Homo sapiens: one gene and its partners. The protein of the gene in region 1 interacts with the protein of each later gene in a biochemical or structural test. Each region holds a gene or a part of one and is shown in the gene's direction. Other genes may lie near its edges. The genes, in order: HMGA1, NPM1, KAT2B, RCC1, METAP2, HIPK2 and POU2F2.

Region 1 (4,222 bases):
TTTGAACCCGCGCTCCCGGCCCCTGGCGCCTTCCCGCCCAGGCGCCCCCGCCCCCACCCGGTCAAGCACGTGCTGCCCGGGCCCCGAGCGCTTCCCGCCGCACGGGTGGGGGCTGGGCCCACCCCCCGCCCGCTCCCCACCCCCACCGGAAACATTCCTGCCACATTCCTGCAACTGCAAGGCCCAGCCCGCCGCTCCCCACCCCGCCTCCGCGCCGGGCCCAGGGCTTTCCTGCGTCCCCTCCACCGCCGGCTCGCCCCCTGAGGAGGGGGCTGGGCCAGGGCCTCGGCTGACCGGGGAGGAAGAAGGGGAGCAGAGAAAAACATGAGTCACAGCCGTGTGTCACTGGAGCGCATTTCAATTCCCTGCATCACAGGAGGTGTGGAAGGCCGCCTCGGGGACCGGGCGCGGGAGGTGCGCCCGAGAAGGCCCCGGGCCGGCCTGCAGGGCGCGCCGCTCCGCCTGCGCCCTTTCCTCCCCCACCGCCCTCCCCGCCATCTTCCCCTTTGGCTTCCTTCTCGCTCGGTGCAACAAGTCTTTGTTAAGCCGGGCGCCGGGCGGGCCAGGCGTGGCGGAGATGGCCTGCGTGCTCGGCCCCTGCCCTCAAAGCGCTTCCAGGCGACCTCTGGCCCACCTTTTATTTTTATTTACAGTCCCAACGGAAGGGCCCAGGTCCCCAAGTGGGCCTGCGTATCTCCAGAACACCATCTAAGTCACCTCAAGGTATGAAGCCTCCCTTGGGTGTACCTGCCAACGAGCCAATCGTTGGTTTCGCTGGAAGGCTCCACCTTGATCATGGCTCGCTGGTGGCCATTAATAAAACACTTTGGATTTCACAAGTTTCACGTTTGAATTTCACAAGACTTGTATCTCACCAATCAGCCACACGCGGGTTGACACTGAAAGGCACATGCTGACACCTGTCCGCCCAGGGGAAATCTACCATCTCTCTATTTTAGTTAGGGGGCGGCGTGTAGGCCGCGGAATTCTCTAACGAGCGCGTTTCTCTTCACCCCCTGGGCCCGCGTGGACCCCCGTCCACCCCCACACGCCCTGGGGGGGGGGCCGGGCCCACACGCCCTGGAAGCCCCTAGAGGTGACTCTCCCTGGGACCCCTGTACCAGGGAGGAAGGATACCGCCACCCGTCACCACCCCCCGCCAGAAGCTCCTTCGTGACTCCTCTGCGCGTGCCTTCCCACACCTCCTCCGTCCGGGACTGCGAGGAGTGGGCGGTCGACTCGAGTTCGCAGCCCAGGCCTCCCACACGCCCCTCCCTGCCGTCAGCACCCACCCGCGCGGCAGCGGCGGCGGCGGCTGGCGGGCGGCCGCCCTTTTAAATCCCCGGGCTCATTTGCATGGCCCCGCCCCCTGAGTGACACGGCTGGCGCGGGCGGGCCCGTCCCCCCTGCCCCTGGGTCGCTCTTTTTAAGCTCCCCTGAGCCGGTGCTGCGCTCCTCTAATTGGGACTCCGAGCCGGGGCTATTTCTGGCGCTGGCGCGGCTCCAAGAAGGCGTGAGTTCGCGGCCGCTCCGGTGGCTTCTTTTTTTTATATCTATAATTTAATTAAATTATTTATTTATTGAGGCCGCGCACGGGCCGTGCCCAGCTTCCTGCCCCTCGCCATCCTTCGGGGGAGGGGGAATATTTTTGTCCCCCCGCCTGGCTGTGACACATAAATACCCCGCGGGGGCCTGGGCGGCGAGCACGCGGCGGCGGCGGTCTCTGAGCGCCTCTGCTCTCTCCCGGTTTCAGATCCGCATTTGCTACCAGCGGCGGCCGCGGCGGAGCCAGGCCGGTCCTCAGCGCCCAGCACCGCCGCTCCCGGCAACCCGGAGCGCGCACCGCAGGCCGGCGGCCGAGCTCGCGGTGAGTCGTCCCCGGGGCCCGCGGCGGCGGCGGCGGAGGGGGGCGCCCGCGCCCCCGCCCGCACGTCGCCCCTCCTGCGAGCCGCCCGGGGCTGCAGCGCGCGCCGCCGGCTTTATTCCCAGGCCGGGGCGGCGCGAGCCGGCGGCGGGGGAGGGCCGCGCGGCGCGGGGGCGGGCGGCGGGGCCCGGCGGCGCGGGGAGGACGCCCGCACCCCTTCCCCCGCGCCGCGGGCGCCCTGCGGGGGGCGGGGACCCGGGAAAGGCGCGCGGTGGGGGAGGGGGCGCGCAGCTGCGGCGAGCGCGAGTTGTGCACCCGGCGGAGCCCGGAGGAGCCCGGCGCACCTCGCGCGGCGGCCGCTCCCGCTGGAGCCGGAGCCCGAGCCCGAGCCCGGGCCCGGGTGAGGGGCGGGGAGAGACACGGGCTGCGGCGCGGCAGGAGAGTGGGGGGTCGGGCGCCCCCCGCAGCTCAGGGAAGTTCTGGAAGTGAGGGAGATGGGGAGGAACCCCCAAATTCGGCCCTACGCCCTCTCGGCCTTTCTCTCGCGCCCCCTCCGCAGATGAGGCCGGAGCGCGGGCCTGGGTTTGGGGCTTCACCCCGACCCCACCTCTGGCCTGGCCCGCGCCTCTTCAGCCCCAGGGGCCGGGCCTGCCCTCCGCCCCCACAAACTGGTTTCGCTGCTTTGCTGGGCTCTGTTGGAACTAGTCCCTTTGACTCCCCGTTTCTATTTTATTTTCTTCTGGGGCTTTATTTTGCGGGGAGGGGACGGAGGGAGGGGGCTTTCTTCCTCTCCCCCGCGCCCGCGCGCGCCAGGTTTCCTGCCCCAAGGCGGGCTTGGGTGCCCCCTCTGGCAGGAAGTGGGGCCGGGTGCACCCGCGTGGCGGTGCATGCGGTCGGGGTGCGCTGCTTTCCCGCGCCTGCAGGAGCGGCCTGCGCCCCTCCCCCCGCGCGCCCTGGCCCCGGGTCCCGCCGGCCGGCCTGCAACGGCCGGGCGCAGACACTTGCAGAGTCACCCTCGGGCCGGGTCTGGAGCCTGATGCCTCGGGGGTTTAGCCCTAGCCGCTAGGCGGGTAGGCAAAGTGTCGGGTTGAAAGGGTCTCCGGGAACCTACTTCTTCCTGCTCGCCAACTTGCTGTGTGACCTTAGGCAACTCAAGGCTTCTCTGGGCTACTTTTTTACGGGGGACGGGGAAGAAAACAAGGGAACCCCCAAGATAATTTCCTAGGGCCTTTCCTGCAGAGTCCTTAAGTATTTGAGGAGCACAGTTTGCATGCACAGTGTATGGAGGAGACAGGCTTGAGGCCCAAGCGGGCTTATTACAAAGTGAGGGATTGGGGTTAGGCCCTAAATGTAGTTCCTCCAAGACAGGCCTCTGATGTTCAGAAACAGGTGGAAAAGACGAACGTTTCTTGGCCTCACTGGAAAGGGCCTCGGGCCTTCATTTAGTTCGTGGGGGGTTGGCTGAGGGGATTAAAGGGTCCCCAGCAGCAAGAGGTGGGGGGAGGCACCAGATGGTATGAGAGCTTCCAGGGAGACCCGCCAAGATCTCCAGGCAGGCCGGGCCAGGCTCTCTGGGATTCCGGACTGGCTTCGCCCAACTGGAACCCCCTCGATGAGGGGGCCCCAGGCAGACCTTATATGAGGTCAGCACTCGTTTAGTTGATTAATTTTGATGTTTAGTTTGAAGGGGGACCTGTGGTGTAATATAAGATTCTAATCACTGCCTGTAATTGCAGAGCAGGCCAAGCCACTAATGACGGAGCAGGATAAATCACCAACCACCTTGTTTAAAAGGGTCTCCAAGTCTGAAACATTATAAGATAGAATAATTACCAAAGTCCTGCTGTCTGGAGGGTCTCTTGATGCTTGAAAATGGAGGTCCTGGGCCCTCTAGAAATCACAAGTTTGCAAAAATGTTTTTTTCCTCTCATTGGGGTAAAAACTCTTTTTCTTCTTTTTTTTTTTTCTTTTAAATTAGACATGGGAGTCCCACCGTATTGTCCAGGCTGGTCTCGAACTCCTGACCTCAAGCAGTCCTCCTGCTTTGGCATCCCAAAGTGCTGGGATTACAGGCATGAGTCACCTCACCTGGCCCATAAATCATTTTCAAATGGTCTAGTTCTTATTTTGGTTAGAGTGAAGATTTCTTTCTATTATTTTAAGTTTTTCTAAACTATTACCTAGTTTGATCCTTGAAGCAGTCAGGAGGTAGTTCAGGCAGGTACCTTATAATTACCTTGATCTTACAGATTGAGAGGGGTTCAGAAGTGGAGCCGCTTGTCCCACCCCTTACCATGGCAGGCAGGGATTGGTTACTGGAAAAATGTGTAGCCTAGGCCTCCGGCGTCTCATCCATCT
Region 2 (3,500 bases), on another chromosome or scaffold:
TTTTTAATAGACATGGGGTTTCACCACGTTGGCTAGGCTATTCTCAAACTCCTAACCTCGGGCGATCTGGTCACCTCATCCTCCCAAAGTGCTGGGATTACAGGCATGAGCCACCGTGCCCGGCCACTTTTTTTCTTGAGATGGTGTTTTACCATGCTACTCAGACTGGACTTGAATCTCTGGGCACAAGCTATCCTCCCCTCTCAGACTATGAAGCAGGTGGGGTTACAGGAGCATAACCAAGCCCAGCTTGTTTGGTTATCACTTTTAAGAATATTTCTCGTTAGTAAGAATTGAAATACATTCCAAGAGAAGAATGGGAAACAGGCTAAAAACACAAATTAGAAATAGGGATGGTATGGTTCGGATTGGTTTAGTCTGATTTTGAGTTACCTTTGTACAAGTTTATAAAATAAGTGTTTAATAGCATTCACCGAGGCTCGGGGACAAGCAATCCCTTCCAGAAAGGCTTTGGAGTAGGACCTGATTGTAGTATTGACCCTGTTGGGGCTTTGGAAGATTTCCTTTTTTAAAAATTGATATAATTAGGCCAGGCATGGTGGCTCACGCCTGTAATCCCAGCACTTTGGGAGGCTGAGGTGGGTGGATCACTTGAGGTCAGGAGTTCAAGACCAGCCTGGCCAACATGGTGAAACCCGGTATCTACTAAAAATACAAAAATTAGCTGGGTATCGTGGTGCCTGCCTATTGGTCCCAGTTACTTAGGAGGTTGAGTCAGGAGAATTGCTTGAACCTGGGAGGTGGAGGTTGCAGCAAGCCAAGAATGCGCCACCGTGTTCCATCCTGGGCAACAGAGGGAGACTCCCATCTCAGAAAAATGGGTATAAATTCATGATGTAACCACAATGTAATTTTGTTTGTCTTTAAGTTGGGCATTGATAGGAATGAAAAGTGTAGATATCAAGGTCCAAATCAGTACCTGGTTTTTTTTGTGGGATTTTTTTTTTTTCGGCAAGTCTCGCTCTTGTGCCCCAGGCTGGTGTGCAATGGTATGATCTCTGCTCGCTGCAACCTCTGCCTTCCAGGTTCAAGTGATTCTCCTGCCTCGGCCTCCAGAGTAGCTTGGATTACAGGCACTTGCCACCACGCCTGGCTAAGTTTTGTATTTTTAGTAGAGACGGGGTTTCACCATGTTGGCCAAGCTGGTCTCGAACTCCAAAGTGCTGGGATTACAGGCGTGAGCCACCATGCACCGCCGCAAGTTTTCATATAAGTTGAAGAAAGTGTACTAAGGTCTGCATAGTAGTAAAGGATGCCTTGAGGGAAACAAATATTAATAGAAACTTCAGTGGTGAGATGGCAAGGGCCCAGCATAGATAGATGGCAATGAAAATGCAAAGAGGTGCATGAAGGTTCGTTATAGTTACTTAGAAATCTAACCTTTTGAACACAGATCAAAGGGGAATTTGGTTCCTTTTTGAGGATGGAATGGGTATATGGTGTGGGCTCAGATGACTCTTGATTTAAGCAAGAAAGGCTATGTAATGTGCATAGTGCTGATGTATACTATACATAGATGTATGTAATACGTTGATAGTATGTGGCCCTTAAATGTCTTTTTTAATTTTTGGGGAATTTCTTAAGTAAAGCTGAATTTTTTTTTTTTTTTTTGGAGACAGTCTCTGTTGCCCCGGCTGAAGTGCATTGTTGGCTAGGCTGGAGTGCAGTGGTGCAATCATGGCTCACTGTAACTTCTGCCTCCCGGGTTCAAGTGATTCTCCTGCCTCAGCCTCCCAAGTAGCTGGGATTACAGGCATGTGCCAGCATGCCAGGCTAATTTTTTGTATTTTTAATAGAGATGGGGTTTCGCCATGTTGGTCAGGCTAGTCTTGAACTCCTGACCTCAGGTGATCTGCCCACCCCAGCCTCCCAGAGTGCTGAGATTACAGGTGTGAGCCACCACACCCTGCCAGTAAAGCTGTTTTGATAGTAGTTTTGATAGCTATTTTGATAGTAGTTTAATAGACTTGTTTTAACAAATAAGAAAAAATGTTTAAAAAAAGCATTCTCATCTTGTTTCTAGCACAGGGGAGGCACCTGCAGGGATTGGGTTCTAATGCCAGAAACTTGTACTGACAAAATCACTGTTAAAAAGCCACTTGAAGGGCTATTTGTGACAGCTTTTTAAGTTATGATACTTTTTCTAAATACAGCAAATATTTCTTCGGTATTGGAAAGATAGGTGTTTCTTACATGAAGTTGCTGTATTGGGATTTAGAGACCAGTACGTTCAGTTGTTGAATTAAACGTGAACCCCTTGGTATTTGCTAATAGAGACTTCTGCCTGACTTGCCCTCCAGTGACTCGATTTGATTACTCCCCTCCATTGTTTACCTATTAACAGTTCACACCTGTAATCCCAGCACTTTGGGTGGTCGATGCGGGCAGATCACCTGAGGTCAGGAGTTGAAGACCAGCCTGGCCAATATGGTGAAACCCCGTCTCTGCTAACATACAGCTGGGTGTGATGGTGGGCGCTTGCAATCCCAGCTGCTGGGGAGGCTGAGGCAGGAGAATTGCTTGAACCCGGGAGGCGGAGGTTGCAGTGAGCCGAGATCGCACCATTGCATTCCAGATTGGGCAACAAGAGTAAAACTCAAAAAAAAATAGTGTGCAGTTCAGTGGTTTTAGTATGCATAGTTGTGTAGCCATCACCATAATCAATTTTAGAACATTTCATCACCTCAATGAGAAATCGTACTCTATAGGTATTACCCCTCATGCTCTTCAGCTCTAGTCAACCACGAATGAACTTTGTCTATAGGTTTCCTGTCCCTCATATTTTGCACGAATGGACTTCTGTGACTGTTTTCTTAGCACAGTGTTTTCAAGTTTCATCCATGTTATAGCATTATCAGTACTCCATTTATTTATATGGTTGAATACATTGTATGGGTATGTTTGGTTATTCATCAGTTGGTGAGCATTTGAGTTGCTTCTACTTGTTGACTGCTATGAACGCTTGTAGACATGTCATTTTACTTGGATGTACACCTAAAGCAGAGTGGCTCACCCATTGTATTCCCACTAGCAGTGTATGGGGCTTCTGATTTCACTCCAACCTACTGATTTCACTACACCCTCACTTGCCATTATCTGACTCTAATCCTGGTGGTATGAAGTGCTGATTGTGGGTTTGATTGCGTCTCCCTGTGGACTAATAATGAGCATCTTTTCATGTATTCATTGGCCATATATCTTTGGAGAAATGTTTTTGCCCACTTAAATCCATTTACTTCTCTTTGTCTTTACTAAGTTGTAAGAATTCTTTTTTCTTTTTTCTTTTTGATATGATTTTTGTATTTTTAGTAGAGAAGGGGTTTTGCCATGTTGGCCAGGCTGTTCTTAAACTCCTGTCTTCAGTGATCCACCTCCCTCTGCCTCCCAAACTGCTGAGATTACAGCTGTGAGCCACTGTGCCTGGCAAGAATTCTTTTTTTTTTTTTTTTGACAAGTCTCTGTTGCCCAGGCTTGAGTGC
Region 3 (3,500 bases), on another chromosome or scaffold:
TGACAGCTTCCAGGAAATGAAGAAATGGCTTGGAGATTATATTACAGTGTTAATTTTCAATTTGTCATGTTTCTTTAAATATTTATTTTATGACATTGAGGATACTTCAGAGAACCAGAATGTTGTAATAGAAAAATCTCTTCCTAAAATTGATCTTTCCATTTCCTCCTAGATGTCCAGTCTGTGAGGGCTTAAGACTATAGTTTTTTAGGGATTTAGTAACATTACAGATTAGCTGAGTTTAGGTTTTTTTCAGCTATAAAATGGGGATTTGTACTAGTCTATTGCATTGCTACAAAGAAATACCTGAGACTGGGTAATTTATTTTTTTAAAAAAGAGCTTTAATTGGCTCACAGTTCCACAGACTGTACAAGAATGGCATCAGCATCTGCTCAGCTTCTGGGGAGGCCTCAGGGAACTTATACTCATGGTGCAGGGTGAAGTGGGAGCAGGCACATCACATGGTGAGAGAGGGAACAAGAGAGTGAGGAGGAGGAGCCAGACCCCTTTAAACCACCAAATCTCATATGAACTAACTGAGCAATAACTCATTCATCAACAAGGGGATGGTGCTAGGCCATTCATGAGGGGTCTGCCCTGATGATCCAACACTTCCCACTAGGCCCCACCTCCAACATTGGAGATTGCATTTCAGCATGAGATTTGGAGGGGTCACACATTCAAACTACATCAGGATGCAGTCACATGTTTGAAAATATTTTGGATATATTAATATTTAGTAGTGTACTAGAGCTGGCTTGTACTGGAATGCACAAGAAAATTGTTAAATTTTCAGGAGTTTTGTGAGCTGGTTGTTCCATATGTTGGTAGCTTGAAGTTGACTAGCATGGCACCTGGTTACCTGGATAGCCAGTTCTGGACTAATGAGATGAAGTGTCACCAGTTAGGGCCTTCCTTCCTTGAAGAGCTGTTTGTGGAGCATCTACTTGCAAACCACTAGGCAGATTAAATAAGATGGGGAGCATAAGTGCTGGCACATGGTTGTGCTTCCAGCTATGGTTGAGTGTAGGTCAACAGATATTCTCTGGAAAGAAAACTGTTCTTTAAAAAGAGGTGTTAAGAATATATACATGAGGCCGGGCGCGGTGGCTCAGCCTGTAATCCCAGCACTTTGGGAGGCCGAGGCGGGCAGATCACGAGGTCAGGAGATCGAGACCATCTTGGCTAACACGGTGAAACCCCGTCTCTACTAAAAAATACAAAAAATTAGCTGGGCGCCGTGGCAGGCTCCAGAGGCTGAGGCAGGAGAATGGCATGAACCCGGGAGGCGGAGCTTGCAGTGAGCTGAGATAGCGCCACTGCAGTCTGGCCTGGGCGAAAGAGCGAGACTCCGTCTCAGAAAAAAAAAAAAAAAAAAAGAATATATACATGAGTGCTACTATTGGGCCTGTAATGAGAATTTGAATCTGTCATCTCAAGGGTCCTTAAAGCTCAGCTGGAGAGGATTCCTTGAAGCCAGAGGTTGGCAAACTATAACCCACAGGCCACATTTTGTCTGCTTACTGTATTTTTAAATAAAGTTTTATTGGAACAGTACTGCACCCATTCTTTAACATATTGTCTGTGGATGCTTTTGCATTATAGCAGAAGAAGGAGTAGTTGTGACAAACACCTTATGGCTCACAACGTCTAAAATATTTTCTATCTGGCCCTTCACAGAAAACTTTGCTGGCCCCTAATCTACACTGAATATCATCCGTGTACACATATAATACTCCAATTTCTCAAAATGCTTTACCTGCCTTTTCTGTCTTGTCTTCATAACTTGTATGTGTATGTGTCTCTGTGTGTATGTGTGCACACATGTGTATTTAGGACTCTGAAAATCCACAAATGTGTATCTTATTAGAACAAAGATGAGAAGCTTGGATGTGTCCCATCCCCACTGTCTTGAGAGAATAGCTCTGTGTAATTTTTTCCTGTCTCTTGCATCTCAGACCAATTTTCTGTCAGCACACTCGGCCAGGGATGAGGCGGCAAGGTTGGAAGAGCGCAGGGGTGTAATTGAATTTCACGTGGTTGGCAATTCCCTCAACCAGAAACCAAACAAGAAGATCCTGATGTGGCTGGTTGGCCTACAGAACGTTTTCTCCCACCAGCTGCCCCGAATGCCAAAAGAATACATCACACGGCTCGTCTTTGACCCGTAAGTGGTACTTTCTGTTCCTTCTTCCTTATTTCCTTTTTAAATGAAAGAGGAACTGCTTAGATAGTGAAAGTCAGCCATAGTCATCCACCGAATACTACTGCACCTGTCTTGCTGTGGATACAGAGCTTCACCAAGCTGATTTTCATGTCTGAAAGTGCTAAGAGTAATTTTCAACAATTTACAAATTTTCTTGTTAATGATGATGAAACTTTATATTTTACATTGCTGATGACTCTCCTGTGCTTCATTCTTTATAGCAGTGAGAGAATGTAACACTAAGATGTTCTGCTTTCTTCATAATCAAAATATTGGTTTTGGTATCTTAACTAGGTGCCATTATTGCCCAGGTCTGTGGGCAATTATTGGGATATAAGACAGGTTAACTTTGAAAATCCATTGCTTAAAAAAAAAAAACAAAAAACTAGGCCGGGCATGGTGGCTCATGCCTGTAATCCCAGCATTTTGGGAGGCTGAGGTGGGAGGATCACCTGAGGTTGAGAGTTTGTGACCAGCCTGACCAACATGGAGAAACCCCGTCTCTACTAAAAATACAAAATTAGCCAGGCCTGGTGACACATGCCTGTAATCACGGCTACTTGGGAGGCTGAGGCAGGAGAATTGCTTGAACCCAGGAGGCGGAGGTTGTGGTGAGCCGAGACCGTGCCATTGCACTCCAGCCTGGGCAACAGAGCGAAACTCCATTTCAAAAAAAAAAAAAAAAAAACCCACGAAACCCTAAAGAACTAAACTTCTCTAATTGAATTTATTTTAACATACATAGCCCAGTAGCCTATGGGGACTGTGATCCATGCCTGTGACAATTCAGAGTGATGCTTTAGACAGAGGGAAGGATTCCATAATGCGGAATTTTGCAAATTGTATATGTAAATTTTAAATTCTTTTTCATAATGTTTCTGTAATATTTTGGAGTAAGACTTAACTCTTCAGAGACACATACCATGTTTGTCCATGACTTCCTGCTCTCCCTGACCCCTCCTTGGCACTGGCTGTGCCAGTTCCAGAGCACCTCTGCACATACTCTGTTCTCTATTTGTAAACCTCAGGCACTTCTTAGGTGACTGGTATTTTGTTCTGATGGGAGTGCTGATGACATCTTGTGCAGGCGACCTAGCTCTAAAAAGTTCAGATAAAAGGATGGTCTAGCGAGATAGGGGCTACATGAAGGAAGTTTCTATAGAAACTTAGGACATGTCCCTCTTTCTTAGTTGGTTAATAAGGAACACCCCAAAAAGTATATTTATATAACTAGGATAGGTAAAACTTTGACATAATCTTATTCTTTCAGGAAACACAAAACCCTTGCTTTAA
Region 4 (3,500 bases), on another chromosome or scaffold:
GGTTAGTTTGCTCATCTATTCCTAGTTTCTTAAGCTAGTAGCTGAGCTCATTGATTGGAGACCTTTCTTTTTTTCTAATGTAGGCATTTAGTGCTATAAATTTCCTCCAGATACTGTTAACAACACACAAATTCTGGTATGTTTTGTTTTCATTTTAATTCATTTCAAAATATTTTTGAGTTCCTTTTCTATTCTTTGATCTATGGGCTACTTGAAAGTGTATTATTGTTGTTGTATTAGTGTTGTTCAAATCTATCCTTGCTAGTTTCTTTTTTTTTGGAGACTGCGTCTCCAAAGGCTGGAGTGCAGTGGCACAATCTTGGCTCACTGCAAGCTCCGCCTCCTGGGTTCACACCATTCTCCTGCCTCAGCGTCCCCAGCAGCTGGGACTACAGGTGCCTGCCACCATGCCCTGCTAATTTTTTGTAGAGATGGGGTTTCACCATGGTCTCAATCTCCTGACCTTGTGATCCACCCGCCTCGGCCTCCCAAAGTGCTGGGATTACAGGTGTGAGCCACCGCGCCCAGCCTCTTTTTTTTTTTTAGACAAGAGTCTCACTCTGTTGCCAAAGCCAGAGTGCAGTGGCACAATCTCAGCTCACTGCAACTTCTGCCTCCGGAGTAGCTGGAATTACAGTCACGCACCACCACGCCCAGCTAATTTTTTTGTATTTTTAGTAGAGATGGGGTTTGCGCGGCTGAAGTGCAGTGATGCGATCTCAGCTCACTGCAACCTCTGCCTCCCAGGTTCAAGCAATTTTCATGCCTCAGCCTCTGGAGCAGCTGGTACTACAGCATGCACCACCATGCCTGGCTAATTTTTTTGTATTTTAGTAGAGATGGGGTTTCACCATGTTGCCCAGGCTGGTCTCAAACTCCTGAGCTCAGGCAGTCCGCCTGCCCTGACCTCCCAAAGTGCTAGAATTACAGGCATGAGCCACCGTGCCTGGCCTTATTTTAAAATTTTATTTCTTGTAGGTAACATGTTGGGTTTTTCAGTATGACAGTCTATGTCTTTTAATTGGAGTGTTTAGGCTATTTACTTTTTTTTTTTAAGACAGGGTCTCACTCTGTCACCCAGGCCAGAGTTCAGTGGCAAGATTATGACTCACTGCAGCCTTAAACTGGAACTCCTGGGCTCAAGCCATCCTCCCAGCTCGGTCTCCTGAGTAGTGAAGACCACAGGCATGTGCCACTATGGCTGGCTAAATTTTGTATTTTTTGTAGAGACAAGGTCTCATGATGTTGTCCCAGCTGGTCTTGACCTCCAGGGCTCAAGCAATCCTCCCACCTTGGCCTCCCAAAGTGCTAGGAATACAGGCATGAGTCACCATGCCCAGCCATATTATACATTTTTAACTTACAATAGTCCACATTCAATTGATATTAAACCAGTTCACTTGTAGTATAAGAATCTTCCCCAGCCTGGCCAATATGGTGAAACCCCGCCTCTACTAAAAATACAAAAAAAAAAAAATTAGCCAGGTGTGGTGGTGCTCGCCTGTAGTCTCAGCTACTTGGGAGGCTGAGGCAGAAGATTGCTTGAACCTGGAAGCAGAGGTTGCAGTGAGCTGAGATCGTGCCAGCCTAGGCAACAGAGCAAGACTCCGTCTCAAAAAAAAAAAAGGCGGGGCCCGGTGGCTCACGCCTGTTATCCCAGCATTTTGGGAGGCCGAGGCGGGCGGATCACGAGATCAGGAGATCAAGACCGTCTTGGCTAACACGGTGAAACCCCATCTCTACTAAAAATACAAAAAATTAGCCGGGCGTGGTGGCGGGTGCCTGTAGTCCCAGCTACTAGGGAGGCTGAGGCAGGAGAATGGCATGAACCCAGGAGGTGGAGCTTGCAGTGAGCCAAGATCGCGCCACTGCACTCCAGCCTGGGCGACAGAGCGAGACTCCGTCTCAAAAAAAAAACAAAAAAAAAACCTTCTGGCGGCCTGGTGTGGTGGCTCACACTTGTAATCCCAGCACTTTGGGAGGCTGAGACTGGCGGATCACCTGAGGTCGGGAGTACAAGACCAGCCTGACCAACATGGAGAAACCCCGTCTCTACTAAAAATACAAAATTAGCCGGGCATGGTGGCACATGCCTATAATCCCAGCAACTCGGGATGCTGAGGCAGGAGAATTGCTTGAACCTGGGAGGCAGAGGTTGCAGTGAGCCGAGATCATGCCATTGCACTCCAGCCTGGGCAACAAGAGCAAAACTCCATCTCAAAAAAAAAAAACAATCTTCCGGCTGGGCACAGTGGCTCACGCCTGTAATCCATCCCAGCACTTTGGGAAGCCAAGGCAGGCAGATCACGAGGTCAGAGCGAGACTCCGTCTCGAAAAAATAAATAAATATTTCTTCCATTTCTCACTATATAGTCTTTGATATTGTCATGTGTCTTACTTTTATATATGTTATAAAACCCACAGTACATTATTACAGCCAGAACCTCCATATCAGCCAGTTGCGATGGCTCACTCCTGTAATTCCAACACTTTGGGATGCCAAGGCAGGCTGACTGCTGAGGCTCAGAAGTTCAAGACCAGCCTGGCCAACATAGTGAAACCCTGTCTCTACCAAAAATACAAAAATTAGATGGGCAATTAGCTGGACGTGGTGGTGCACGCCTGTAATCCCAGCTACTCGGGAGGCTGAAACAGGAGAATTGCTTGAACCCAGGAGGCAGAGATTGCAGTGAACTGAGATCACGCCATTACACTCCAGCCTAGGCAACAGAGTGAGACTCCGTCTCAAAAAAAAAAATTAGCTGGGCATGGTGGTGCACATCTGTGGTCCCAGCTACTCGGGAGGCTGAGGCAGAGGTTGCAGTGAGCCGAGATCCTGCCACTGCACTCCAGCCTGGATGACAGAGTGAGACTCTTGAGACAAACAACTGGGGCTGGGCGCAGTAGTTCACACGTGTAATCCCAGCACTTTGGGAGGCCGAGATGGGTGGATCACTTGAGGTCAAGAGCTCAAGACCGGCCTGGCCAACATGGTGAAACCCTGTCTCTATTAAAAATACAAAAATGAGCCGGGCATGGTGGTGCGTGTCTGTAATCCCAGCTACTCTGGAGACTGAGGCAGGAAAATTGCTTGAACCCAGGGGGCAGAGGTTGCAGTGAGCCGAGATTGCACCACTGCACTCCAGCCTGGGCAACAGAATGAGACTCCATCTCAAAATAAAATAAAAAATACAAATACAAAACTAAAAAAATAAAAATAAAGGCCAGGTGCAGTTGCTCATGCCTGTAATCCCAGCACTTTGGGAGGCCAAGATGGGCAGGTCACCTGAGGTCGGGAGTTCCAGACCAGCCTGGCAAAAATGGTGAAACCCGGTCTCTACTAAAAATACACAAAATGGCCAGGCGCGGTGGCTCACGCCTGTAATCCCAGCACTTTGGTAGGCTGAGGCGGGTGGATCACCTGACGTTTAGGAGTTCAAGTCCAGGCTGGCCAACATGGTAAAACCCCGTCTCTACTAAAAATACAAAAATTAGCTGGG
Region 5 (3,500 bases), on another chromosome or scaffold:
ATGAACAAATAAGATCAGCATTTAAATTGGTCTAAGTTAGACTCTTATTTTCTAGTAAATTTAGTTAAAAGTGGATTGTGTTTCTCTGACTTTCTAGCAGAATCAAATTCCTTGTCTTCTAAAGATATGCTATTTTCATAGCATCAGAGAACTGTTATTTATTTATATTCAGAAAGTGCTCAGATCATTCCCAGAAGGTATTTAAGGTTTTTAGTAAACTTTCTGGACTTGATGAACTATATGGTATTAATATATAAAAGTAAGAATGTAAAAGTAAACAAGTTCCCTTTGCTTTTTTGTTTTAGTGAAAAGTTGGAAGACTGTTCACGCAAGTTAATAAAAGAGAATGGATTAAATGCAGGCCTGGCATTTCCTACTGGATGTTCTCTCAATAATTGTGCTGCCCATTATACTCCCAATGCCGGTGACACAACAGTATTACAGTATGATGACATCTGTAAAATAGACTTTGGAACACATATAAGTGGTAAATTCTTGCAGAAAATTCCTACCCCAGCCTCCTCCTGAAAAACTAGTTTTTGTCTCTGTTAAATGGAGTGATAAATACTGAACTCCCAAATTTTGTTCTTGCTTCCTCATTTCATTAGGAAAGGTGTGTTGAGGCAGATTTTTAAAAAAATTTTAGTGCACTTATAGGAGAGAGAGGCAGTTGTGACATTTACTTGAAAGCATACTACTAAGTAGAATAAAATGAAAACTGTTGGGTAGTTGAGGTTTATTACCCTTTGTATCAAGGCATGAAAGACATTATCCTACCTTTCTTTAGGTCATTGTTTCATATCTCTTTTATTCAAATAATAACATTTATTTAAAATACTTAAGTTTATCAGCCTTAATATACATGTTTGCTTTTCTGAATTCTCTCCAAAACCTGGTTAGGTAAGCACCTTGTTATCTTACTTACAAGTGAGAAAGCAAGCTTAGAATAAATACTTGCCTAAGGTTTCACTACCTTGGAAAAGTAAAAGTATATTCAGAGCCCTGTATACTTTCTCTGCCCTGCGTTACTATTTCTCATTTCCCTAGTCTTTTCTTGTATTCATTTTGTTTCTGTTTATATGTTTGTATAACTGCCAGGGTGAGCACTGAACTGGTGCTGTCTTGGGGTAATATATACTAACCTTGTAATTCTTTCTATTCTGAATCCTTTATATACTTCTACATTTTGTCTCTTTGATTATGAATGATCTTTGGGTATTTGGAGTGCAGCCTTCATTTGAGCCTTCATTCTATTTTTCTGTTAAACTAGCAAGATTAATAGATTAAATGCTGTAAAGTAGATAAATTGACTAGCTGATAAGTAAAATTAAAAGAGGAATTTTCTCTTTCAGGTAGGATTATTGACTGTGCTTTTACTGTCACTTTTAATCCCAAATATGATACGTTATTAAAAGCTGTAAAAGATGCTACTAACACTGGAATAAAGGTATGTGAACTGTAAGCACCATTTCATTCCCAATATTTTGAGCACTTTAAGGTCTTTTAAACACTTAACAGCATTTAAGCACTTTTAAGGCCTGTTTAAGGGCTTTGGGTAATTAAGAGGAATAAAATTGATCCATTTCCCTTATGGTTTTAAGCGGGTAAGTGTATGATTGTGTACCAAAGGTTGTTTTTTTGTTTGTTTGTTTGTTTCCCTTGAACTTTGCTAAAATTTATTAAAACAGAGTTTGGATCTATTTTTGCCTGTCAGTTGGCAGTGGTTTTTTTGTGGTTCTTTTTTAGAACAATTTTAGGTTCATAATAAAATTGAGCAGAAAGTACAGAGATTTCCCTTATACCCACCCCTCCCCAATTTCCTCCATTGTCAGCATCCCCACCACATAGGTATATTTGTTAAAATCATTTGAACTAGCATTGACCACATCACAATTATTCAAAGTTCATAGTTAACATTAGGGTTCATTCTTAGTAATATACATAAGGGGTTTGACAAATATATAATGACACGCATCTACCATTATAGTATCATACAGAGTATTTTCATAGCCACCAAAATCTTCTGTGCTCAACTGATTCATCCCTCTCTGTCCACCAAACTCTGGTACAGCCCAGCTTTTCCCCACCCACTCAAATTTTTTTTTTTTTTGGAGGGAGGTGCAGTTAAAATAGACATTACATAAAATTTACCATATTAACTTTTTCTTTCTTTTTTTTTTTTTTTTTTTTTGAGATGGAGTCTTACTCTGTTGCCCAGGCTGGAGTGCAGTGGCACGATCTCGACTCACTGCATCTTCTGCCTCCTGGTCTCAAGTGATACTCCTGCCTCAGCCTCCCGAGTTGCTGGGATTACAGGCACGCACAACCACTCCCGGCTGATTTTTATGTTTCTAGTAGAGATGGGGTTTCACCATGCTGGCCAGGCTGGTCTCAAACTCCTGATCTCAAGTGATCCTCCCGCCTTGGCCTCCCAAAGTGCTGGGATTACAGGCGTGATTCACCGCGCCTGGCCATTTTTAAGTATGTTGTTCATTGGTATTAAGTACATTCATAATATTGTGCAGCCATTATCACCATTCTTCTCTGTTTACTCTTCATGTTATAAAACTGAAACTCTATACTCATTAAACAGTAACTCCCATTTTCCTCTTCTCCCCCTACCCTGGCAACCACCATTCTACTATATATGATTTTTACTGCTGTAAGTACCTCATATAGTGTTTGTTGTTTTGTGACTGGTTTATTTCACTTAGCACAATGTACTCAAGGTTCACCTATGTTGTAGCATGTGTCAGAATTTACTTCCTTAAGGCTAAATAATCTATTGTGTGTATATACCACATTTTTGCTTATCCATTCATCCACTGATAGACACTTGGATTGCTCCGATGTTTTAGCTATTGTGAATATTGCTGCTATGAATACGGGTGTATAGATACCTCTTCAAGGTCTGTTTTCAATTCTTGGGTATATACCCAGAAGTGGATTTGGGAATCATCTGGTAATTATATCTTTTTAAACTTTTTGAGTATCTTCTCTACTACTTTCCACAGTGGCTGTACCATTTTCATTCCCACCAACAGTATGCAAGGAAAGGCTCCAATTTTTCCATTTCCTTGCCAACACTATTTTCTGGGTAGTTTTTGTTTGTTTTTTGTTTTTAATCTTTGGAGAAATGTCTATTCAAGTTTTTTGCCCATTTTTATTTATTTATTTTTTAATTAAAAAATGTAGGCCAGATGTGGTGGCTCATGCCTGTAATCCCAGCACTTTGAGAGGCCAAGGCGGGTGGATCACGAAGTCAGGAGATGGAGACCATCCTGGCTAACATGGTGAAACCCCGTCTCTACTAAAAATACCAAAAAAAAAAAATAGCTGGGTGTGGTGGCGGGCGCCTGTGGTCCCAGCTACTGAGGAGGCTGAGGCAGGAGAATGGCGTGAACCTGGGAGGCGGAGCTTGCAGTGAGCCGAGATCGCCCCACTGCACTCCAGCCTGGGCGACTGAGCGAGACTCCATCTCAAAAAAAAAAAAAAACAGT
Region 6 (3,929 bases), on another chromosome or scaffold:
AAATAGCTCATCTTTACAACAAAAATTAAACCAAGGAAGAGATTATTCTTTGTGTGTTGTACTCAAATGCGATGTTCAAATGCACATGTTAAGTATATATGTTTTTAGCTACTGTAAAATGCTGTTAGCCTTCTAAGCTATCAAAACAGTCACATTTTAAATGAGTAAACTAAACAATTGACTGTGGATACTTAAGCATATTTCTGGCTACGTTTTATAGTTAAAGTGTTTTATAGTTTACATTTAGACTGGTACTTTTTAAAGAAAAGTTCTGTTTATAACTGACATCCGCAAACCCCAGTGAATGCCTCTTAGTTGGAGGTTGTGTCTCCCCCAAGGCAAGTGTGTTGTCCCAGACTCTTCTGTAGTCCAGCATGCGCACTTCCCTCTGGATTATTACTTTCCACGTGAACTCAAGAGAACATGAAAGGCAATCCAGATGGAGGGAAAAGGTGTGAGTCCGCAGCCCGGGCCAGATGCGAAGGTCTCATGCGTGTCGTCTAAACACTTGTCTTCAAGGCCTTCTCTCTGACATCTTGGAAGAGTCATTGAGAACAGATAACCTGGTTCATTGATTTTTGTCTTGATTTGAATATTTAACTTATTAATAGATCCACTGATTTCCAGGCACCAGGCAGTAGAAGAGACTGGGATTCAGGTGACCATGAAGGCACAGCTGCTACTTCTGGGCCGGGGGTGATATTTTGATCAGCGTTTTGTAGGGGAGGACCATATACCCCTATTCCCATGGTCGCTGGCTGGGTTTTCCATATATCTGCTGTCATTTATTCGTTTTCCCCTTAAAAGCAAAATCAATGTAAAAGGCTATGTTTACGTTTTACTCATTGTCCAGCTTAGACTCAAAGTCTAGTTCGGTGGGAGGGGGACCTTAGCATCCTCTCAGAGATGGTCAGGGCTGAGCAGGAGGAGGCAGAGACAGAGGGGCAGCTCAGCCTGGTCCATTGAGACCCACTCTAAACAGACATCATATTTGGAACAAGAAGATGCTTCGAGACAGGAATGGGCCCCACTGTCATGCAGAAACAGACTGGGGGAATGGCAGTTTCCCTGAGTCTTGGTTTCTTTTATGTTTTCTCTTGTGCCACCACCAAACTGCAGAGGACCTGCTGTGACCTAAAGGGCATTCCTTTAGCAGATAAGACCTTGAAAACTGCAAAACACCTGGGACCAGGGAGCTTTTAAAAAATACAAAAAAATACCACATTTGCTTTTTCCCTGTGAACTGTATTGACAGCGTGTTCTTAGGACAGTCTTTTGGTGGAAATGTTACTGTAAAATAGTTTTCATCTCACCCCTCCTAATCATACTCCCACTTTCCTGTTTGTGTGGTGGTGTTGCTGTTTTTTCCTTTACATGAATTAACCAAATGAATTTTGTGTCATTGTTTTTGGGGCTTATATTTTTAAAACATAGAAATTGCCTTTTGTTCATTTGAAAAGTAAGTATGTTGTATCTGAAAAAGGGCTCTGCCTCTGCTCTCCCTCGCTTCCTTGTAACCAATCTCCAAACGAATCTCTCCTGGCACCGCCCCCTTCCTTATATAGGGTCACTGTCCCCGGGGCCACCTCTGCCTCCACCCTGCTGTCACCACTGCCCTGGGCCAAGGCACCCAGGACTCCCAGAAAGCGCGAGAGCCAGCAAGAAGGCCCCACTCAGCCTTGAGACTGGTGGTCACACCTCCCTGTCAGAGTCGCCTGCTGGGCTGAAGGGGCAATGGATTGTCATTGTTGAAATTGTTTGGCTCAGGTTATAAGGAGGAACTTGGGAAGTAGAAAGTGACTTGACCATGTGCATCCTTGGTAGCTTCCTGTAACTAACAAATGGAACAGAGAGCACACCCCCGCCCCGCCCCACCCCAAGCAGATGTTCCCGTCAGCGCTGCCCTGAGTCAGTCGGTCCCCCGTTTCTGCTCTCCTCCCTTTTGTGTTCCTGCTCACTTCAAGCTTCTTCCATGGACTTTCCAGGGCACAGTCATCTCTAGCCCCCAAATCATCTCTTCATCCTCTGTGTGTGCATTTTTTTAACCAAATGAAATAGACAAGAAAGTCATACTTTGGGGCAGCAGAATTTCTAATTTAGTAGAATCACTGTATAGAGATAGATGTTGATATATATGTTTGTGTATATATATCAAACCAAATTGGATAGGAGAAGTATAGCTTTACAGATGAGGAGAAGGAGCTCTTTAGAGGTCGGAGTCAAGACTGGTGTCTTGGACGTGCATGGGCTGTGTCCCAGGCCACTCCGCACACATGGGGCTGAGGCGTGGCGCCGGGCCCTTGTCATCCACCTCACCACGGCAGAGCCAGCAGGCCCTGTAGGGTGCTGCTGCTGTCTCACTGGGTCCCAGCTTCAAGCGCATCAGTGGGTGACGGGGGCAACAAATCAGAGTGACTGGAAGTTTCCATCCCGTTTTGCTTTGACCACGTGTACTGAGCTGCAGCCTCTGATACTCTGTCACGTTTCCAAAAATGGTATCCATTAGGATAGAAAGAGAATGGATCTGCAGAAATGTTTACCTTTCAACTGCTCATGAATTCAGGACACTGGATAGAAAGACTCACTCCCCAAAATGAGAACAGGGAAGAGGAGACCCGGCGACACTAAGTCACCAGGTCCAAGGAACGTGGCTCCCTCCCCAGGGTCATCTCACCTAGATCTTTCTCTCCCAGGTCATCTCAGCTCAATCTCAATAACCCTATGAAAGCCCTGGTCTGTTGTGTTCCTTCACCGTACGGTTTCTGTAATAAAAAGTGTTAATCCATGTTAATCTGTGTGAAAATTATTGCGTGCAACAGTATTTTCTCGTGTACCTCTTTTTCCTATGTGAATTGTCCCTCTTTTTTATTTATAAATGTCTACTTTTGTTTTTTTAAAGACAAACCAATGTGTTGTAGACCTATATGTAACCTATTCCTTAGTCTCATATTATAGGTATGTTATAAGAATGGATATTTTACTTGGCTTTAGAATGTTTTACAAGAAAACTAATTCTTAACTGATCAAGTCCTTGCTACTAAAATGCTTGTGTTTTTCATCATGACGTCGTGTGCTTCTAAATTAATCATTTTCGTTGTAGAAAAATGGAGTGAATTTATATTAGTCTTGGAAACTAATAATAGCATTGTAAATTTATGAGATGATTTTAACAGAAAAAATATAGAAGAATATAGTTATTTTAATTGTAATATTACTAACTGTAGGGTGAGAAAAAGGGGGGGGGGTCCCATTGTGGTGAACTATGTTATAGCTTGTTACTCATAGTTTCTTTTTGATCATTTTTTCGGTCTCCGAGGTGAAATGACTTATTAATTAAAATTTGTAAACTCACATATGCATATTGTATATGTGTAGAAATGTAATCACACTTTGTCTTGGAATTACATTAAACTGTTTGAAATCACTGTACACCTGCCTGGCATGCTTATTTATCCTGGAACCAGACCTGTCATAAAAGCGAAGAGGTTATTGTTACAAGTAACATATTTGGGGTTTGTTTGTTTATTTAGATGGAGTTTTGCTCTTGTTGCCCAGGCTGGAGGGCAATGGCACGATCCTGGCTCACTGCAAACTCCGCCTCCCAGGTTCAAGTGATTCTCTTGCCTCAGCCTCCCGAGTAGCTGGGATTACAGGCATGCACCACCACGCCCGGCTAATTTTGTATTTTTAGTAGAGATGGGGTTTCTCCATTTTTTGGTCAGGCTGGTCTCGAACTCCTGACCTCAGATGATCCACCTGCCTCGGCCTCCCAAAGTGCTGGGATTACAGGCATGAGCCACTGCGCCGGGCCGAGATTATTTAATGGCTCTGGAAATGTGTAGAAGCCACCACTGCATTGAACATTTGCAGAGAGAGGTGGGGGGCCTTGAGATCACATTACTACCAATTCCCATGCAGTTGAGTGGGGC
Region 7 (3,500 bases), on another chromosome or scaffold:
TCTATTATTTGGCCTTTCCTTGGCCTCTGTTTGTCTCTGTCCACATTCCAAATATCACCCCCCTGCCAACACACTGTGTCATTTTGCCCAAGTTGCTTTCTGTCTCTGGACTTCCTTTTACAAAATGGTGTTGGGCTATCAGGCTGAAGGATAAACTCACTGTCCACTTTAGGCCTGAGGGTGTGTGATCCATCAGGCCATGCCTTCTCCCACCACTGTGTGTGCTTCAGCCAACAGGCCTTTCAGCCAACAACTGCTGTTGTCTGGCTTTTTACCTAGGAATGGAGGAGGCCAGGGTGGCTCTATGCTGGTCTGTTCTGTGTGTATGGTGCAAGGTGTGTCCATATCATATTCAGAAAGACATGGAGAGGCTTGGCAGACCTCAGGAGCGGAGGCTGAAGCCTGGTATTTCCTGGGCCACATCTGGCTTGTCCACAGTGCAGGACAAATGCTGTGCTTTGCTTATTATGCCAGTATTTTTGTTCTAGATTTTGAAAAGAGTGGCCAGCAGGAGCTGAGTAGGAGCCAGATAAGATTTCCACTTAGGCAGGCGCTCTCTCCAGCCCACCTCCATCCACCCCTACTCCTGTCATTCATTTGTGCCCATTTCTGTAAGCATCTGACTTTGTAGCCCAGGTTCCAAGGTGGTGGTTTTTCTTAGTACCTGAAAACCTTTTCTTCCAACAAAGTCTTACTTCATTGGACAAATAAGGGATGTACCTGGCTAGGTGCAGTGGCTTATGCCTCTAATTCCAGCATTTTGGGAGGCCAAGGCAGGAGGATCGCTTGAGCCTAGGAGTTCAAGACCAGCCTGGGCAACATAGTGATACCCTGTCTCTACAGAAAAATTTAAAAATTAGCCAGGTGTGTGGTGGGCACCTGTAGTCTCAGCTGCTTGGAAAGCTGAGGTGGGAGGATTGCTTGAGCCTGGGAGGTAGAAGCTGCAGTAAGCTGTGATCATGCCACTGCACTTCAGCTTGGGCAACAGAGTGAGACCTTGTCTCAAAAACAAAAAGAAAAAAAAAGCAAGAGAGATGTACCTCTGTGTGATACAGATGAAGGGTGTGGGACCCAGAAGCCACTTATTTGACCTCCCAGGTGCCCAGTGGGAGTATTTTCCTTTTTTTTTTTCAGAAATGGGGTTTCACCATGTTGGCCAGGCTGGTTTCAAACTCCTGACCCCAAGTGATCCGCCTGCCTCGACCTCCCAAAGTGCTAGGGTTACAGGTATGAGCCACCGTGCCCAGCCACTCTTTTCCATTTTACAGACAGGAAAACTGACTCTCAGGAGGGGAAAAGTGCTCTGCAAAGGCGACTTCTGTAGGGAGTTTGGGTGCAGGTGTTGTGTTAGCCCTATCTGATTGATGAGGAAACTGAGGCCAGAGGAGTGGTTTGAAGCTCCCAGCGGTCAGTGCAGGACCACAGACTGCACCCTCATGTCCACACCCCAGTCTGCTCCTCCTGTGCCAGCCTGATTGCCATTGCCACACACGTGCCCTCTCTTTGGTTCACAGGTGGGCATTCTCTCTGGCCTCCACTTAACATTCTGGGGTCCCGGACCCTGCCTCTCTCCCCCCCAGATCAAGGCTGAAGACCCCAGTGGCGATTCAGCCCCAGCAGCACCCCTGCCCCCTCAGCCGGCCCAGCCTCATCTGCCCCAGGCCCAACTCATGTTGACGGGCAGCCAGCTAGCTGGGGTAAGTACTTGGGGAAGGATGGGGACGAGGGGACAAACCAGCCACCCCTCATCTGTTACAGGGCTAGTGGATGAACTGTTCCACCAAGGCCATGGCCACTCTCTCACACCTGCCTCTTGCCCTCTTCTGTCCTCTAGGAGGTCTTGTCCCCTTACTTGCTTGGCTTAGGCACTAACCCCTCTCTGCCTTCTCTGCTCCTCTTCAACCCCTTGCTCCAATTCCTGCTGTCCCCGACACCCCGCAGCTCACGGCACTGATGCCAGCTCAGCAGCAGCTCCTCCTGCAGCAAGCCCAGGCCCAGCTCCTGGCCGCCGCCGTGCAGCAGTCCAGTGCCGCCGCTGCCGCTAACGCCGCTGCCGCCGCCGCCGCCGCCTCCGCCTCCTCCTCTACTTCCTCCTCCTCCTCCTCCTCTGCCTCCTCCTCGACCTCACAGCCCCCAGCCTCCTCTGGGGGGGGTGACCTGCCACCACCACAGCCTGCCAGCCAGCCCCCTGGGACCCCACAGCTCACCTTGTCCCAACCCATCCAGCTCACAGCACAGGTAAGGGCAGCCACTGGGGACCAGGCTCCCTGCAGTGAAGGACATGCAGAAACAGTGAGTGTGTGGGAAGGGGCTGACTGGTCCACATGGACTGTTCTGACCACCAGCCACATGCCAGGCAGTTCCTAGCAACCCTAGGAAGCTTTGGAAGATGTTGCTGTCCCATCTTACAGAGGGGTAAAGTGAGGCTCACAGGGAGGAATATCCCACATCATAATCCTCCCTCTGGTGGTGTGTTGGGGGCAGTGCTTCCTGTGCATCTCGCTGGGAGTTCACAGCCTCCTGGGAGGTTGAGATTGTTGTCCTCAACATACAGGTAAGGAAACCAGGAGTCACTCTCGTGAATGGTACCATGTGGGTACAAAACAAAAGGTTAAGAATAAGAATGAGTGCCCTACCCTCATCGTGTCCCCTGGCTTATCCAACAAGATGCTCTTTCAAAAAAGGGGCCCGTGATCTATGAATTAGGAGGTTCTCCATCACCTCCCTGACTCTGGAGCTTTTGCTGGTCCATAGTTAATCATGAATTAGTGGCTGTCTCAGTTTCCTAGGGCTGCCGTAACATAATACCATAAACTGGGTGGCTTAAGGCAACAGAAACATATTGTCTCCAACCACAAGTCCAAACTCAAGGTATCGGCAGGGCCGTGCTCTCTCTGAAGCCTCCCAGGGAGAATCTGTCATTGCCTCTTCTGGCTTCCGATGGTGCTGTCAATCCTTGGTGTTCCATAGCTTAGTAGATGGCTCACTCCAATCTCTGCCTCCTCTGTCGTCACATGGCCATCTTCTCTCTGTGCACCTGTCTCTGTATTCAAATTTTTCTTTCTTGTAGGGACACTAGTCATTAGTTTAGGGCCCACCCCATTGACCTCATTTTAACTTGATTACATCTGCAACCCTATTTCCAAATAAGGTCACATTTACAGGTACCAGGAGTGAGGGCTTCCACATATCTTTTTGGGGACACAATTTAACCCCTAACAGTGGCCAACAGAGTTCCCATAAGGACAGCCGGGGGAGCAGAGTGGGAGCTGAGTAGGCTTCCTCTTCCGAAGGGCAGCTGTCTCCAGCCCACTCCTGTCCACCCCTTCCCATGTCACCCATTCATGTTGTCTGTCTGGTTTTCACCCATTCATGTTGTCTGTCTGGTTTTCATAAGCCTTAGAGCTGTGGCCAAGTTTCAGGGCAGTGAAGGTCGTGGGAAGCCCTACAGCAAAGCCACCTGTTTAACTTCCCTTAGCCTGGCGTTTCCCTCAGTGACT

Evidence for each region.
Region 2: the proteins of HMGA1 (region 1) and NPM1 interact in far-western blotting, tested with the Homo sapiens proteins (2 studies listed by BioGRID).
Region 3: of the proteins of HMGA1 (region 1) and KAT2B, one has a biochemical effect on the other in vitro, tested with the Homo sapiens proteins (one study listed by BioGRID).
Region 4: the proteins of HMGA1 (region 1) and RCC1 interact in far-western blotting, tested with the Homo sapiens proteins (one study listed by BioGRID).
Region 5: the proteins of HMGA1 (region 1) and METAP2 interact in far-western blotting, tested with the Homo sapiens proteins (one study listed by BioGRID).
Region 6: of the proteins of HMGA1 (region 1) and HIPK2, one has a biochemical effect on the other in vitro, tested with the Homo sapiens proteins (one study listed by IntAct).
Region 7: the proteins of HMGA1 (region 1) and POU2F2 form a complex in vitro, tested with the Homo sapiens proteins (one study listed by BioGRID).

The regions. Positions count from the first base shown.
Region 1 is NC_000006.12:34,235,451-34,239,672, forward strand, and holds the start of HMGA1 (high mobility group protein HMG-I/HMG-Y), read left to right. Parts: upstream 1-1,422; 5' UTR 1,423-1,431; coding exon of another isoform or gene 1,432-1,513; exon of another isoform or gene 1,514-1,753; coding exon of another isoform or gene 1,754-1,867; intron 1,868-1,964; coding exon of another isoform or gene 1,965-2,930; intron 2,931-3,340; exon of another isoform or gene 3,341-3,507; intron 3,508-4,222. Other genes in the region: translation initiation factor IF-2-like, read left to right, coding at 796-806, 1,125-1,280, 1,432-1,513, 1,754-1,867, 1,965-2,930. UniProt on the Homo sapiens protein: HMG-I/Y bind preferentially to the minor groove of A+T rich regions in double-stranded DNA. It is suggested that these proteins could function in nucleosome phasing and in the 3'-end processing of mRNA transcripts.
Region 2 is NC_000005.10:171,394,349-171,397,848, forward strand, and holds part of NPM1 (nucleophosmin), read left to right. Parts: intron 1-3,500. UniProt on the Homo sapiens protein: Involved in diverse cellular processes such as ribosome biogenesis, centrosome duplication, protein chaperoning, histone assembly, cell proliferation, and regulation of tumor suppressors p53/TP53 and ARF.
Region 3 is NC_000003.12:20,123,946-20,127,445, forward strand, and holds part of KAT2B (histone acetyltransferase KAT2B), read left to right. Parts: intron 1-1,959; coding exon 1,960-2,168; intron 2,169-3,477; coding exon 3,478-3,500. UniProt on the Homo sapiens protein: Functions as a histone acetyltransferase (HAT) to promote transcriptional activation. Has significant histone acetyltransferase activity with core histones (H3 and H4), and also with nucleosome core particles.
Region 4 is NC_000001.11:28,512,543-28,516,042, forward strand, and holds part of RCC1 (regulator of chromosome condensation), read left to right. Parts: intron 1-3,500. UniProt on the Homo sapiens protein: Guanine-nucleotide releasing factor that promotes the exchange of Ran-bound GDP by GTP, and thereby plays an important role in RAN-mediated functions in nuclear import and mitosis.
Region 5 is NC_000012.12:95,494,652-95,498,151, forward strand, and holds part of METAP2 (methionine aminopeptidase 2), read left to right. Parts: intron 1-305; coding exon 306-487; intron 488-1,352; coding exon 1,353-1,447; intron 1,448-3,500. UniProt on the Homo sapiens protein: Cotranslationally removes the N-terminal methionine from nascent proteins. The N-terminal methionine is often cleaved when the second residue in the primary sequence is small and uncharged (Met-Ala-, Cys, Gly, Pro, Ser, Thr, or Val).
Region 6 is NC_000007.14:139,561,070-139,564,998, reverse strand, and holds the end of HIPK2 (homeodomain-interacting protein kinase 2), read left to right. Parts: 3' UTR 1-3,429; downstream 3,430-3,929.
Region 7 is NC_000019.10:42,115,447-42,118,946, reverse strand, and holds part of POU2F2 (POU domain, class 2, transcription factor 2), read left to right. Parts: intron 1-1,514; coding exon 1,515-1,697; intron 1,698-1,941; coding exon of another isoform or gene 1,942-2,238; intron 2,239-3,500. UniProt on the Homo sapiens protein: Transcription factor that specifically binds to the octamer motif (5'-ATTTGCAT-3'). Regulates IL6 expression in B cells with POU2AF1. Regulates transcription in a number of tissues in addition to activating immunoglobulin gene expression.